Linked DNA regions of Homo sapiens: region 1 is linked to region 2. A link means that fine-mapping ties the variant in region 2 to the expression of a gene that starts in the linked region. Tissue or cell type: blood mononuclear cells. Region 2 holds a variant in brackets; the other region holds the start of a gene. All regions are shown on one strand. Distances are between the middles of the regions.

Region 1 (8,166 bases), 61 kb after region 2:
ATCCCAGCTACTTGGGTGGCTAAGGCACAAGACTTGCTTGAACCGGGGAGGCAGGGGTTGCAGTGAGCCGAGATTGCGTCACTGTACTCCAGCCGGGGTGACAGAGCGCGACCTTGTATCCAAAATAAAAAATAAAAAAAAAGAATGAATAAGACCTACTATGTGATAGCACAACAGGGTGACGATAGGCAATAATTTAAAAACAACTAAAAGAGTGTAATTAGATTTTAACACAAAGGATAAATACTTGAGTGGATGGATACTCCATTCTCCATGATATGATTATTACACACTGCATGCCTGTACGAAAACATCTCATGAACCCCATAAGTATATACACTATGTTTCATAAAAAAAAATAATCATAATAATCCCAGGCTTCATTTCACTTTTTTAAAAAATACTGTTTTACAACATACTAATATACCATGTCTATTTTAATATGCATTTCTATATGCTATATGCTATAGCTAATAAATTAATTCACTCAAAAAATATTTACTGAGTACCCATTCTGTTATGCTGCTTTGGTTTTTTCTTTTTCAGGCACCTCTACTATTTGTCTTCTTTGCCTATCTTTCTTATCGTTACTTTTTCTTGAATCTTTTAAATCTATTTTATTTTTTAAAATTTCATCTTTCCACTGCCGATTGTTTTCTCAAATGGTATCATTTGCTCGTCTTGCTTCTATTTGAGGCTCAGCTCTGCATTTTTTTTTCATTTACTTCTAACTTTCTCTGTCATCTCATTCTCACATTTTCATAATTGATACACGTTGTTCTTTCATGTCTTACCTCATTTTCTTAATGCCTTTTAACTCATTGTGAAATAGATAATAGTTTTGGTTATAATTTTGGTCTATTTTGTGTGCATTTTTTTCATTGCAAGTTTTTATGTCTGGAGAGATACTCTGTCCCTTTTTCTCGTATAATAACTTTGTATGTAATTTGATCTCAATACCTTTCTGTAGCTCATTTTTATGTGAATTTAATTTTCTTGAACTTTTAGAATGAGTAGAGGTTCAGGGAATATAAGTTCACAAAGCTGTTTCTGGGTAGTGTTAAAAAATACAGTGGTTTGCTTTGTGGTTTGTTTTCTAAGATTTCTTGATTCTATGACTTTGCCTCACTTTTATATGGTCTATCTCCTTCTCTTCTTGTCTCTATTGTCCCTTTCATAAAATTTTATTCCACTTCCAGCATAACATTTCCGTAAGACTTTATTCCACTCCCTTTTCCTTAGGGCTCTGGTCTAGAATGGCACCTTGGCAAGTCAGTTTTGAGTGTTCACAGGAGGTAGACTACTCCTGCCTGTTTGGTCTTTCTTATGGTAGACCTTCACCCAGTCAATAATGGAGTGAATAAAACTCCTCTGTTTCAGCTACCGCTATCTAATTGGCCAGCACAGTCTTTTAGTGGATACCGCTGGCTATTCTGGAATTCTGTTCTAAGGTTCATCAGATGTTGCCCCATTGCTTCCTTCTCGCTTTTGCACAGATGGCAATATCAACGGTGTCTAGAGACTATTGATAGTTTGCCTCACCTAGTTATGTTTTGAGTTTCATGGGGATAGCATGTCACATGGTTTGTTGTAATTGTTTTATGGATTTTAAACTTTGGTTTCTAGTTTCTCTTTCTGTTTTTACAAGATGATTCAGAGAAACTGAAAACCTATGCTACTGAGGCCACACCACTGACTTCCCGTAACTTACTTCTTCTCCCTATCCTTCCCGCCCAGGACTAGCTTTTGAATGCCTGTGACTTATTTAGGCATTACCATCTTTAAGTTCTACTTAACAGAGAAGCTGATAACCTTTGGTCTCTTTTTAATCAAACATTTTTGAAAGGTATCACAACAATGAACCAAATTTTAAAATTTATTTACAGTGAAATTTAAAAATAATTCTCCTCCCAGTTTCTATATAAAGCTTTCACAAAACCTATCCTTAGTGTCCATGTCATAAAACTGCATTAAAGAGATTTTCATTCTTCAGTAACAAAATTCCTCAGGATGGAGAGAATCTAAGATATTTTCACCAAACCAAATTCTGTGCCACAGACTACAGAATAAAAATATTACTGAACAAATTATGTATTAAATCATCACGAATAACAATCGCATTATTTTTGCACTTTAGAGATAAAGTGACTGATATATAGCAGGTACTGACTGAAGGATGCAAGAAAAGCCAAAGTTGGTTGTCTCCATTTCTGCAATGTACTGGTTTCCTTTTTAGCCCTCCCCGGGGGAAAAAAATACCTCTCTAAACCTAACTCAATCTATGTTTCAAATAAATTCAAGATAAGCTAACCTTGGAAACTTTTTGTAGTCTATTTCTCATCTACCAAATCTGATTGGAATCCAGCAACAAAAACTCCTTTCCAGAAGTAAACTACCTTCATGTTCGTAAATGCCGATTAAACCATAATTTAATAGGCTATTTACAATACTACCCATCACAACTGATTCAATCAGCTACACAAATTTCAAGCTTTTTTTCTGTAAAGCATCAGAAAAGAGATCAAATTCATTAAATGTGACAAACACCAAAGTATCACCCAAAGTCTAGTTTACCTAATAGACGACTGCTTTCTCCTCTCTTTCCACAGTTCCAATATATAAACTACGTTTTCGGAATCTACACATTAACGTTGTCCTGGGGTCAGTACATGCCAAATATTATTAGTAGTATTAATGTTCTATCAATTCGTTTCCCAACCCCCTCTGTCACACAGTGAGGCCTCCAAATAAAAGGTCCTACGCCCCACTCCCCAGCTGGCCCAAGAGTTTTTTGTTTTGGCAACAGGGGATTGGTGCTGCTTTTGAAATAACAGAAAGTAACAAAAGGCATCACCAATATGACCATCAGCCACGTCGGAAAGTCTAGGCTCCGGGGGCCGGGTGGGCCGCGCTCTAGATCAGGGAAAGTAAACAAGGTGACTGCGTGCGGAAGCGGCTGTTATCGTCTGTAAGTGGGTCTGCCGCTCTGGGTGGGATGGGGGAACCTACGAGGACACCCACTCCAGCTTCGCAGCCTCTGTAAGGAAAAAGGCAACTTGCAGCTCCCCGGGAGGAAACCGGAGAACAGTAAAAGCGTTCTTTCCCAGGACTTCATTTCGGAGTCGCGGAAGGACCAGCAGAAGCAAGAGCTGTCAGAGAAGCCGTGAACCCAGCGGCTCTGTCCACACACAGGCAACCTGCGTCCTTAGCCCCTTTCGGCTCATCCGGGCGTCCTCAAACCTTCCGTCCCCCTCCCTAATGCCACTAATCGTCCAGACGACGAGGGGAAAGAGGTGGCTCGAAAGCCCCAGCTCTAAGGTGGAGAGGGCCGCGGAGCCCCGGGTCCTCGGCTTTCTGAGCCGTTGCCCCTCGCTCACCCACCTGATGCTCTTTCACCACTTCGCTGAGACAGGGATACCGCTCTGAGATCCATCTGTAAAACTTGGGGACTCCCATTTCGATCGTCAACACTAATCCCAGTCAGGGCCAAACCGAAACCAAACGCCCCGCCGGGGCTCCGCCGCAGCCTCCGGTCGTCGCTCCGCGGATGACAACACACCGCCCGGCCGACCATAGAGAGCGCCCGGCGGGCCTAGAGCGGCAGGATCCGAGGCCGTCCGAGGGGCGGGGCTTAGCCCTCCGGGCCTCGCGCGGCCGGGGCCGCGGTACTGTCCAGTGGCGGTCAGGGAATCTGCGGAGGTTTGCTGGTGTGTTGCAACTTAGGGGCGAAAATGCCCCATGATAGAGTTGTGCTTTCTAAGTGGATTTGGAAGTGGCATGAAAACCGTACGAAGGTGTGGGAAGGGTATCGAACACTGATTTTTGTTCCGCTTGTCTCCTAGGGTTGCTAATCTCAGTATTTTTCATTCAGATTTCGAAAGATCTGGTGATTTACTTGGCTTAGTTTGTTGTTTTGTCAATAATTTTTTTTCTCTGAGGAATTTAAACTTACGTTTCTTAATACATACGTTTAAAAACGTTCTTTTCCAAATTGTTCAAAAAAATTTCCCATGTACCCGCCCCCCGCAACTGTTAACATAAGACCTTGGATACGAAATCATTTAATGTTTAGTTTTGACATTCTTGCATCCGGGTTTATCATATTTTTCCCCATCACACTTTCAACCGCACAGCAAAGGAGAGTTCTATCAACTTAAGTGAAATTATCAGTTTTAAATGTAAGAGTTTTCCACTTATTTGAATGTATTAACCCGTTACTTTGTATTTAAGTCTTCTGGATGAAAACTTACAGAAAAACCTTAAACATTTAATACTTTTTGGATTTTAAGATCTCAGGAAATGTTAAGTATCGCTGTCTTTCATGACCACTGGATTCTGCATTCTGGGACTGCAGTATGGCAGCATCACACAAATTACAGAATGTTTATTTCGTTTTCACATTCACGCTTCTTGGCTTATATTTTTTCCCTATCACACTTTAAAACAAAGTTTTATTAAGTGAACTTAATGATATGCTATTTATATTTATATATCTCTCTTACTAGACTGTCACTTCCTGGAGGGCAGGAGAGGGTAGCTCTATGCACAAGTCTGGCACAACGCCTTGCCCACAGTATTTATTCCATATAATTTTGTTCTTCAAGTGAATCCTTACAATAGCTAGGACTTTTAAAAGGAAATCAATAGAAGTTGTAAAATGAAATTAGACTTGCTTGTTTCTTGCAAATATAGTTTTTGACCATAAGAACACATGATATTCTATTTCTCCAATTATAATGCACAGTATGTATTAAGAAAGCAGTTTATTTCTTAATAACTGAATGTATATTATTTTACATATAATTAATGATCAGAGAGAAATAACAGTTGCTGAGAACGTAAATTTATGTTGTACTTTAGAATTGAACAGATACAACCACAGATTCATACCAAATGCATTACTTTTAGATTATTAACATATTCTTTTACATAATTTCATTTCACATATATGGAGTCCAACCAAGATACATCTGGCATAGTAAGTTTTCATCAGTAGCTTCCTGTATAAGGTAATGCACATGTCCTTCAATAGATAACGGCAGTCCTGTCACTCTATTTCGAGTCTTGATTACACCTTGTAGTCGCTGCTCAATGTCAAGAACATGGGTCTTGGCCTAAAAAGAAGAAACATAAAACCAAAAACAGATGTTAATAATTTGGAATTACTACCTTTCTTTATATTTTGACATTTAATAAATGTTAATACCATTTTACTGACCAATACCCCTTTTGTAAGAGCAAATACAGGAAAAGAAGAAATTAAACAAATACAGTTAGCTTGTGATACTGATTTGGAGGCTCGCAAGATTGATTCAACATCAACTGCTTGGACATGTTTCTGGACTACGTGAAATACCAGGGAATTATTTACACATTACAATTCTAGAAAAATAATTTTTTAAATCTGCTTTGGAAGTGTTTAGGACTTAAACATTTCAATGAATATTCAAATAACAATGCTGTACTGCCTAATATTTACATTATGTTAGTACATGCAAATGGGTGTTCTAAGTGAGCTACTTGGAACTGTACAATTTCTTAAGCATATCTGAATGCAAAAGGAAGAATAACGTTATTAGAAGAATAATTCTCAGAGGTGGTGCTGGGTGGGCTGGTGGGCTGCGCTGCAGCCCACGAGCACAAAGAGGAGGGCCACGGGGTGGAGACTGTTGCTGTGCCATCTGCCATCGACTTTTCCGCCAAGAGCCTGGACTCCAAATATGACTTATGTTCCAGCAGAACTCCAGGTATTAAAATAACCCCTACAACAGCCAACTTTCCCTTTTGCAGTTGCAAACCAGCTGCCGCTTATTTCTTTGGTGAAGCACTTGAGCCATGTGCGTGAACCAAACCCAGTTCATTCAAGACAGTGTTTAAGTTACTTTGCCAGACCTTTATCAAAATGGGGCTGCTGTCTTCTTTCACTTGTGACAAGTTTAGCTCATTGAGACTACATCACCACAGAGCTATTACTCACTTAATGAGGTCCACTAAAGAGAGAGTTCATCAGGATCCTTGTGAGGCTATTTCTCATATCCAGAAAATCAGATCAAGGGAAGTACCCTTTGAAGCACAAACTTCACGTTACTTAAATGAATTTGAAGAACTTGCCATCTTAGGAAAAGGTGGATATGGAAGAGTATACAAGGTCAGGAATAAATTAGATGGTCAGTATTATGCAATTTAAAAAATCCTGATTAAGGGTGCAACAAAAACACATTACATGAAAGAACTACGGGGAATGAAGGTGCTGGCAGGTCTTCAGCACCCTAATATCATTCGTTATCACACTGCGTGGACAGAACATGTTCAAGTGGTCCAACCACAAGCAGACAGAGCTTCCGTTCAGTTGCCATTTCTGGAAGTGTTCTCCGACCAAGCAGACAGATACCAATACGGTGTTAAAAATGGTGAAAATAGCAGCTCACCCATTATCTTCGCGGAGCTCACCTCAGAAAAGAAAAACCCTTTGCAGAATCTGACACTCAAAATCAGAACAACAAGCTGTGAACTACACCATCAATTCCGTCTTAAGAGACACCAGTGAATATGAATCATCCCTGGAGCTCCAGGAAAATGGCCTGGCTGGTTTGTCTACCTGGTCAATTGTGAAACAGCCCCTGCTGCTCAGGTGTAATTCCCTCCTAGAGGAGAATTTCACATCCACTGAGGAATCTTCCAAAGAAAACTTCAACTTGTTGGGGATCGAGGTGCAGTACCACCTGATGCTGCACATCCAGATGCAGGTGTGCAAGCTCCAGCTGTGGGACTGGCTAGCTGAGAGAAACAAACAGGGCCAAGAGTGTGTGGGCAAGTTTGCCTGTCCTTATGGCCAGTGTTGCAACAAAAAATTTTCAAGATTTAGTGGAAGGTGTGTTTTACATACATAACATGGGTATTGTAAACAGAGATCTGAAGCCTAGAAATATTTTTCTTCATGGCCCTGATCAGCAAGTAAAAATAGGAGACTTTGGTCTGGCTTGCCCAGACATCTTACAAAAGAACACAGACTGGACCCATAGAAACAGAAAGAGAACACCAACACCTATATCCAGAGTGGGCACTTGTCTGTATGCTTCATCCCAGCAGTTGGAAGGATCTGAGTATGATGCCAAGGGTCTCACTCTGTTGCCCAGGCTGGAGTGCAGTGGTGTCATCATAGCTCACAGCAGCCTCCAACTCCTGGGGTCAAGTGATCCTCCCACCTCAGCCTCCCAAGTAGCTGGGACTACAGGAGTGTGCCACTGAGCCCAGCTAATTAAAAAAAAACAAAAACTATTTGTAGAGACCAGGGCTGGCTTTGTCCAGTTAGATATGTATATAGCTTGAGTGTGATCCTGCTAGAGCTCTTTCAGCTGTTTAGAACAGAAATGGAGCGAGCAGAAGTTTTAACAGGTTCAAGAACTGGTCAGATATTGGAATCCCTCAGTAAAAGGTATCCAGTACAAGCCAAGTATATCTATCACTTAACGAAAAGGAACATGTCCCAGAGACCATCTGCTCTTCAACTGCTACAGAGTGAATTTTTCCACAATTCTGGAAATATTAATCTCACCCTACAGATGAAGATAATAGAGCAAGAAAAAGAAATTTTTCTTTTAGTTCTTTTAGAAGAACTAAAGAAGCAGCTAAACCTTCTTTCTCAAGACAAAGGGTTAAGGATGACATGAAGGATGGGGGCGTACAGGTCTAGCCTTCCTCGAGCTATATCAGTAGGATGAAAGTGGACTTAAACTCTTTAGGTAGTTAACTGGAATGTAAATTTTTAATCTTTATTAGCATATAGTTGGTATAATTCATTGTATTTAGTAAGCCTGTACAAGACTTATTAAAGATGTAAGAGTGCCCCCCACCAAAAAAAACGAATCCTCAATCTATTCTAACTTATTAAAAACAACTATCTGAGCTAGGCACAGTGGCTTATGCCTATAATCCCTGCATTTTGGGATGCTGAGGTGGGTGGATCACTTGAAGCCAGGGGTTCAAGACCAGCCTGGCCAACATGGTGAAACCCATCTCTACTAAAAATATAATAATTAGCCAGCTGTGGTGGTGCACGCTTATAATCCCAGCTACTTGGGAGGCTAAGGCAGGAGAACTGCTTGAACCCAGGAGGCAGAGGTTGCCGTGAGCCAAGATCGTGCCACTGTACTCCAGCCTGGATGA
Region 2 (8,207 bases):
CTGTGTTCATAAGTTACATGGATAAATTCTTTATTTTTTCCCTTCATTATTATATTTTAATTTAAACCTAAATGAAGAGAAGTTAAGTAACTGCTTTAAACTAGAGAAAAATGTATCAGTAACAATAATGGAAACTAACTTCTCCAGTGCAGCCATAATAGGGAGTTCCCAGCATAAAGACCATACTTCTCAGAGGAAACAAATCATCCAATGTTTTGATATTGGAGAAACGGGAGTCGAAAGCTCGGATGTCCTACATAAAATAAAAGTAAATAATCTTAGTCATAATTTCTATAGATTGCGTATCAAGTTTTTTTCCTATGGGATTATGACTATGCTGTTTGCAAATGTCAATGTGAAGATTTTTCTACATAATGCCAAGAGCTAAAATTTGTTGACTGGTTATATGGCAGGCACCCTTCTATGTGCTTCACACATTTATTGAGTTCATTTAATCCTCATGACAAACCTCTGTGGCAGAGACCATTATTAGCCTCACTTTACAGATGACAAAACTGGGGCACAGAAAGGGGATGAATCTTGTCCAAGGTCATGCAGCTAAGAAGCCAACTCAGGCAGCCAGTGTTCTTAAGTCACTTAATCACTACACTGTACTATAACACCCCAAATTACAGGATCGCTACATACTTAAAAAAATTTTTGTCCTCTTATCGTATCTAAGATTATAAATGCAAAAATAAAATGCCTTTTACATTTATAAGATTTAAGGCAAACATTTTTGAAGAATAAAAATATAAAATTCAAGGGTGTAAGTTAATGGTGGGATTTTTTCTTTTAGAGTCTAAGTCCTTAAAAAAAACCATAAAAGGCTGGGCGCAGTGGCTCACGCCTGTAATCTCAGCACTTTGGGAGGCCGAGGTGGGTGGATCACGAGGTCAGGAGATTGAGACCATCCTGGCTAACATGGTGAAACCCCATCTCCACTAAAAAATACCAAAAAATTAGCCAGGTGTGCTGGCGGGCACCTGTAGTCCCAGCTACTCGGGAAGCTGTGGCAGGAGAATGGCGTGAACCCAGAAGGCGGAGCCTGCAGTGAGCCGAGATGGCGCCACTGCACTCCAGCCCGGGCAACAGAGCGAGACTCTGTCTCAAAAAAAAAAAAAGAAAAAAAAAAAAGCATACGAAAGCATAAAAGACAAGTTTCCTAACTATATATACTGAGTGTCTGAGCATGTAATACTTCTTACAAATAATAAGTTATTTTGTAAATTATATTAAATGATAATCTCTATTATACATTGCTGAATTAGTCTATTTATATTAACATATCTTTTCATTATACAGTGAATAGTGTATTAATAGTGTATATTAAGACAGAATTGAAACTTGATATAGACTTACCTTGACAATAGTTTGATAAACAAAAGGAACAACTTGTTTTGACCACTGTTTCTCTAGACGAACTTCACCATTTTGATTTATTTGATATTTACGACCTGTGAGTAACTGAGCATACACAACTGCAGATGTTTCATTTATTATTATTCCTTTTCTTCTCAGGTAGCTAAAATAAAGAATAAACATGAAATATACATATGAATGAGTATGCAGATATTCTAGGACGATAATCGTCAACTATCGTAAACTATCAACTCATAATCAAGTGTGTAAATAAACTTTAAATAAATACGCTAGCAGTTCCAGGTACCTAACTTGAGACTTTTTGCATTATTTATTTTACTCTGTGGGTACTTCTCCAACTGTCTCTGTGATTAAATAAGAACTCATAGAGCTATACAAAACTCCTGTTCTCACATCCACTAGGATCGTTATAATTAAAAAACAGGGAAAAAAATAAGTTTTGGTGATGACATGGAAAAACTGGAACATCTGTACATTACTGGTGGGACTGTAAAATGGTGCAGCTGTTGTGGAAAACGGTTTGGCAGTTCCTCAAAAAGCAACATATAATTAACACATGACCCAACAATTCTAAGCATTCCAACCCCCCCGGATTGGAAACAGGTACTCAAACAAATATTGATACACAAATGATCATAGCACCACTATTCAAATAGCCAAAAGGTAGAAACAATCCAAATGTTCATAAATGAACAAATGGATAAACAAACAGTGGCATATCCATACAATGGAATATTATTCAGCCATAAAGAGGAATAAGCACTGACACATGCTACAATGTGTATGAACTTCGAAAGCATGCTAAATGAAAGAAGCCTGATACAAAAGGCCATATATCATATGATTCCATTTATATGAAACATCTAAAATAGGTAAATCCATGAAGACAGAAAATAGATTGGGGGTTGCCAGGAGTATGTGATGGCTTTTCCAATCTAAAGTAATTCAGACAGCCTCCTAGTTTTTTAGATAAAAGTTTACTGGAACATAGTTATCCATTTACTTCCTGTCTATGGCTGCTTTTGCGCTACATGGTAAAGTTGAGTAGTTGTGACAGACATTGTAAAGTCTACAAAGCCTAAAATATTTACTATTTGCCCTTTACAGAAGAAGTTTGCTGACCTTTCATCTAAATATATAATCATTCTTCATTTAAGGAATACTTTCTTATCTCCTTTCCATTTTCTCTTTCTAGAACTCCTAATAGATAGATATTAAAATTCTGATATTATTTTCATCTCTTTGTGCTTTTGTACTGCTTACTGAAGGAATTCCTAAGGTTGATCATTTAGCTCACTGATTCAATTTTTAGTATGCCCGTATTACTACTCAGTCCATCTACCGAGCTCACTTTACCAATCACACTTTAAAAGTTTTGTTTATACAAATATGTCATAAAAATAGTATATAATATAGACTATATAAATAGCATATAATATAGTATATAATTATATAACACGTTATATATTTTTTCACATCAGCTTATACTTTAATAATGTTGTCTATGGCAAAGTTGGTCTGAAAAAAGTCATGTCACCTTAGCCAGAAACAAAAGTTTTCCAACAAATTTTTGAAACACACCATTTTCTAAAAATTTATTAGAATTTTTTTCTACCACTTTCACTTAAAAGTCATTTAGCCAGTAATCTTGATATCAACAGCTGACCAGGACATTTCAGGAAATCTTTATAATTATGGGCCAGTATTTCTCATGAAAGTAGATGCAAAAATCTTAAAACAAACTTAAACAGATAAAATCCAATTATGTATAAAAGGATAATATATCATAAATAAATGGGATTTATTCCAGAAATTTAGGGGTAGATTAATATTGGAAATTCAATCAATGCAATTCATCAGATTAACAGGATAAAAATAATATAATCAGTTTGACAGCTGCGGAAAAAACATTTTACAAATCAGCACCAATTAATGATAAAAACTCTTAATCAGAATAGAAGGAAATTTCCTTAACCTGATAAAGAACAGTAATTAAAAACAAGCTACAGTGATAATTTTATTTAAAGATAAATTACTTAGTTTTCCCCTGAAATTGAGAATGACACAATAAGCCAGTAAGAAAACTATAAAGTAATGAGAAAAAGATAATCAACCCAATTTTAAAAAGGGCAACAGACTTGAACAGGCATTTCACAAAAGAGTATGCATATTCAAATGGCCAACAAACACGAAAGGATGTTCAATTTTATTAGTCATCAGGGAAATGCAAATTAAAGCAAAATGAGATACTACTACTATACCAAAATGGCTAAAATGAAAAAGCAATAGTAAGTACTTATGAAAACAGAAATCAACATAAGTTCTTATAAACTGCTGGTAGAGCGTAAATTGATACAAAGAGTTTGCAAACCTTTTTGGTAGTATCTGTTCAAGCTGAATGTAGGCATATGCTATGAAGCAGTAATTCTACTCTTAGATATATACCCAAAAGGAATGCATAGACATATACCCAAAAGGAATGCATATATACACGTTCACCAAGAGCCCCAAATGAGAAACAACTCAAATATCCATCCACTGTAGAATGGAAAAATTGTGCTGTATTCATACAATGTAATAGTATCATTAGTGAAAATGAACAAACTATGATTACATGTAACAATATGGATATTAGAATCACAATACTGACCAAAAGAAATCAGGCTCAAGAAGAATACACTCTGTGTGAATGAACTTATACTGCATAAAGTTCAAAAATAGAAAACACAAATGTATGTGGTTACAAGTCAAAATGGTTATCCTCGTCACTGGGGGTGGGGAGGGAGCAGCGGATGGTAATGGATAAAAGGGTGTACAAGGGACTTCCTTGGATTATGGTAATATTCCTGTTATTGTTTCTTGACTTGTATTCTTGTTCCACATGTGAAAATTCATCAAGTAATATACTTATGATTAATACACCTATAATTCGCAAGTATTTTTTGCTCCATATGTATACAGCCAT[T/A]CTTTGGGAGACATTTCAGGTTCAGTTCCAGACCACCACAATAAAGTGAGTCACATGAATTTTTCTGTTTCCCAGTACATACCAAAGTTATGTTTACACTGAGTCTATTAAGTGTATAATAGCATTATGTCTTTAAAAAATGTATATATCTACTATGGTTTGGATATAGTTTGTTTGACTTCACCAAGTCTCACGTTGAAATCCAATCCCTAATGTTGGAGATGGAGCCTGGTGAGAGATGTCTGGGTCATGGGGTGGATCCTTCATAAATGGCTTGCTGCTGTCTTCCTTGCAATGAGGAGGATACGGGGGTTTATCACTCTACTAGTTCCCATGAGAACTGACTGTTAAAAAGAACCTGGCACCTCCCTCCCTACCCCTCTCTTGCTTCTTTTCTTGCCATGTGATCTGTACACGCCTGTTCCTCTTTGTCTTCTGCTATGAGTGGAAGCTTCCTAAGGCCCTTACCAGAAACATATGCTGATGCCATACTTCTTGTGCAGTCTGCAGAACTTTGAGCCAAACATACCTCTTTTCTTTATAAATTACCCAGCCTCAGACTGGGCTAAGACAATACTTTCATTTTCAAATACAGCTGACACTTGAAAAACACAGGTTTGAATGACATAGGTCCACTTACATGCAGATTTTCCTCCTCCTCTAACACCTCCAAGACAGCAGATGAACCCCTCCTCTGCCTACTCAACATGAAGACGAAGATGAAAACTGTTATGATCAACCACTACCACTTAATTAATAGTAAATATATTTCTCTTATGATTTTATAATAACATTTTCTTCTATCTTACTTTATTGTAAGAACACACTATATAATACATATACAAAATATGCGTTATCAACTACTTATGTTATCGGCAAGTCTTCTGATGAACAGTAGGCTTTTAGCAGTTAAGTTTTGGGGAGTCAAAAGTTGTATGTGCATTTTTTTTACTGTATTGGGGGTCAGCACCCCTACCTCCCACACTGTTCAAAGATCAACTGTACTTTATTGCTCAAAAATGCTAACAGTAGGCTATTAGTAGTTAACTTTTTGTTAGTGGAGGGTCTCACCTTGATATTGATGGCTGTTGATTAGTCAGGGCAGTGGCCGATGAAGGTTGGGATGGCTGACGCAATTTTTGAAAATAAGACAATAATAAAGTTTGCTGTATCAGCTGACTCTTCATGAAAGATTTCTCTGCAGAATGCAATGCTATTTTATAGCATTTTACCCACAAGAGAAGTTCTTTCCAACTTGGAGTCAATGCTCTCAAAGTCTGCCACTGCTTTTCAACTAAATTTATGTAATATCCTAAATCCTTTGCTGTCATTTCAACAATGTTCACAGCATCTTCACTATGAGTAGATTCCATCTCAAGAAACCACTTTCATTGTTCATCTATAAGAAGCTACTCTTGGCCGGGTGCATTGGCTCATGCCTATAATCTAAGCACTTTGGCACGTTGGGAGGCCAAGGCAGGTGGACACTTGAGAGCACGAGTTTGAGACCAACCTGGCCAAAATGGCAAAACTCTGTCTCTACTAAATATAAAAAATTAGCTGCGTATGGTGGCGCTTGCCTGAATCCCAGCTACTCAGGAGGCTGAGGCACGAGAATAGCTTGAACACAAGAGGTGGAGGTTGCAGTGAGCCGAGATCGCACCACTGCACTCTGGCTTGGGTGACAGAGCGAGACTCTGTCTCAAAACAAAACAAAACAAAGAAGCAATTCCTCATCCATTCAAGTTTTATCATGAGAAAGCAGCAATTCATTTCCATCTTAAGGCTCCACTTCTAATTCTAGCTTTTTTTTTGCTATTTCCACCACATCTGCAGTTACTTCCTCCACTGAAGTTTTGAACCTCTCAAAGTCATATAGGAGGGTCGGAATCAACTTCTTTCAAATTCCTGCTAATGTTGATAGATACTTTGAAATCCCATGAATCATGAATGTTCTTAATGGCATCTATAATAGTGAATCCTTTCCAGAACGTTTTCAATTCACCTTGCTCAGATCCATCAGAGCAGTCACTCAGAGTCTCGCTCTGTTGCCCAGGCTGGAGTGCAGTGGTGTGATCTTGGTTCACTGCAACCTCTGCCTCCCAGGTTCAAGCGATTCTACTGCCTCAGCCTCCCAAGTAGCTGGGATTACAGGTGTCCGCCACCACGCTCAGCTAATTTTTGTATTTTTAGTAGAGACAGTGTTTCATCATGTTGGCCAGGCTGGCCTCGAACTACTGACCCCAGGTGATCCACCCACCTCAGCCTCCCAAAGTGCTGGGATTACAGGCATGTGCCACTGTGCCCGGCCAAAAATGTATTTCTTAACTACTAAAACTTGAAAGTTCAAAGTACTCCTTAGTCCATGGGTTGCAGAATGGATGTTGTGTTTGCATGCGTGAATGGATGTTGTGTTTGCATGTGTGAAAACATTATCTCCTTGCATATCTCCATCAGAGCTCTCAGTTGATCAGGTGCACTGTCAATGAACAGTAATATTTGGAAAGGATCTTTTACTATGACCAGTAGGTCTCAAGAGTGGACTTAACATATTCAGTAAACCACACTGTTAACAGATGTGCTGTCATTCAGACTTCGCTGTTCCATTTATAGAGCACAGGCATAGATTTAGCACAATTCTTAAAGGCCCCAGGATTTTCAGAATGGTCAATGAGCACCGGGTTCAACTTAAAGTAACCAGTTGCACTTTTCCCTAACAAGAGAGTTAACCTGATTTTTGAGGCTTTGAAGCCAGGCATTGGCTTCTCCTCTGCACCTATGGAAGTCCAGGATGGCATCTTATTCCAATAGAAGGCTGTTTTGTCTAGGGTTGTTGTTTAGTGTAGCCATCTTCATCAACAATCTTAGCTAGATCTGGATGACTCACTACAGCTTCTACATTAGCATTTGTTGCTTCAGCTCACACTTTATATTATGAAGATGGCTTCTTTCCTTAAACTTCATGAACCAACCTCTGCTTACTTCAAACTTTTCTTCTGCAGCTTCCTCACCTCTCTCAGCCTTTATAGAATTGAAGAAAGGTAGGGCCTTACTGTGGATTAACCTTTGGCTTAAGGGAATGCTGTGACTAGTGTCATCTTCTATCCAGACCACTAAAACTTTCTCCATATTAGCAATAAGGTTGTTTAATTTGCTTATCATTGGTGTATTCACTGGAGTAGCACTTTTGATTTCCTTCAAGAATTTTTCTTTTGTATTCACAACTATTTGGTGCAAGAAGCCTAGCTTTTGGCCTGTATCAGCTTTTGACATGCCTTCTTCACTAAGCTTAATCATTTCCAGCTTTTGATTTAAACCTAGAAACATGTGATTCTTCCTTTCACTTGACTACTTAAGAGGACATTGTAGGGCTACTAACTGGCCTAATTTCAATATTGCTATGTCTCATGGAATAGGGAAAGAGAAAGAGACTAGGGGACCGTTGGTTGGTAGAGCAGTCAGCACACACACAACATTTATTGATTAATTCACCATCTCAAATGGGCATGGTTGATGGTGACCAAAAACAATTACAATAGTAACATTAAAAATCACTGATCATAGATGACCATGACAGATATAAAAATAACAATAATAAAGTTTGAAATATTGTGAGAATTACCAAAATGTGACACACAGGCATGAAGTGAGCACATACTGTTGGAAAAAATGGCACTGATAGAGTTGCAACATGGTTGTCGCAAGCCTCTAATTTGTAAAAAAAAATGCAACTATCTCTGAAGCACAATAAAGAGAAGCACAATAAAACAAGGTATGGCTGTATTTCGATGCTTCTATTAAAATAAAATCCCCCAAATAGTTAGCTCAAAACTTTTAAATTCCCAAGTGGTTGGAAGAT

Evidence for each region. PIP is the estimated chance that this variant, and not a neighbour inherited with it, causes the effect.
Region 1: XRN1 starts here. The variant in region 2 is fine-mapped to the expression of XRN1 in blood mononuclear cells (TOPMed, PIP above 0.99).

The regions. Positions count from the first base shown.
Region 1 is chr3:142,444,489-142,452,654 of GRCh38, forward strand. XRN1 (5'-3' exoribonuclease 1) reads right to left here and starts at 3,549. Exons shown (of 41, transcript NM_001282857.2): 1 at 3,382-3,549. The coding sequence starts at 3,456. It overlaps ATR (ATR checkpoint kinase), which reads right to left. Exons shown (of 47, transcript NM_001184.4): 47 at 4,747-5,114. The coding sequence ends at 4,941. It also overlaps the pseudogene EIF2AK1P1. RefSeq lists enhancers at 1,375-1,734, 3,267-3,546.
Region 2 is chr3:142,383,161-142,391,367 of GRCh38, forward strand. XRN1 (5'-3' exoribonuclease 1) reads right to left here. Exons shown (of 41, transcript NM_001282857.2): 21 at 1,363-1,525; 22 at 140-253. Among named protein-coding and RNA genes, the nearest start is that of XRN1, 61 kb to the right of the region's middle. The variant T/A (reference allele first, on the strand shown) is at 4,349.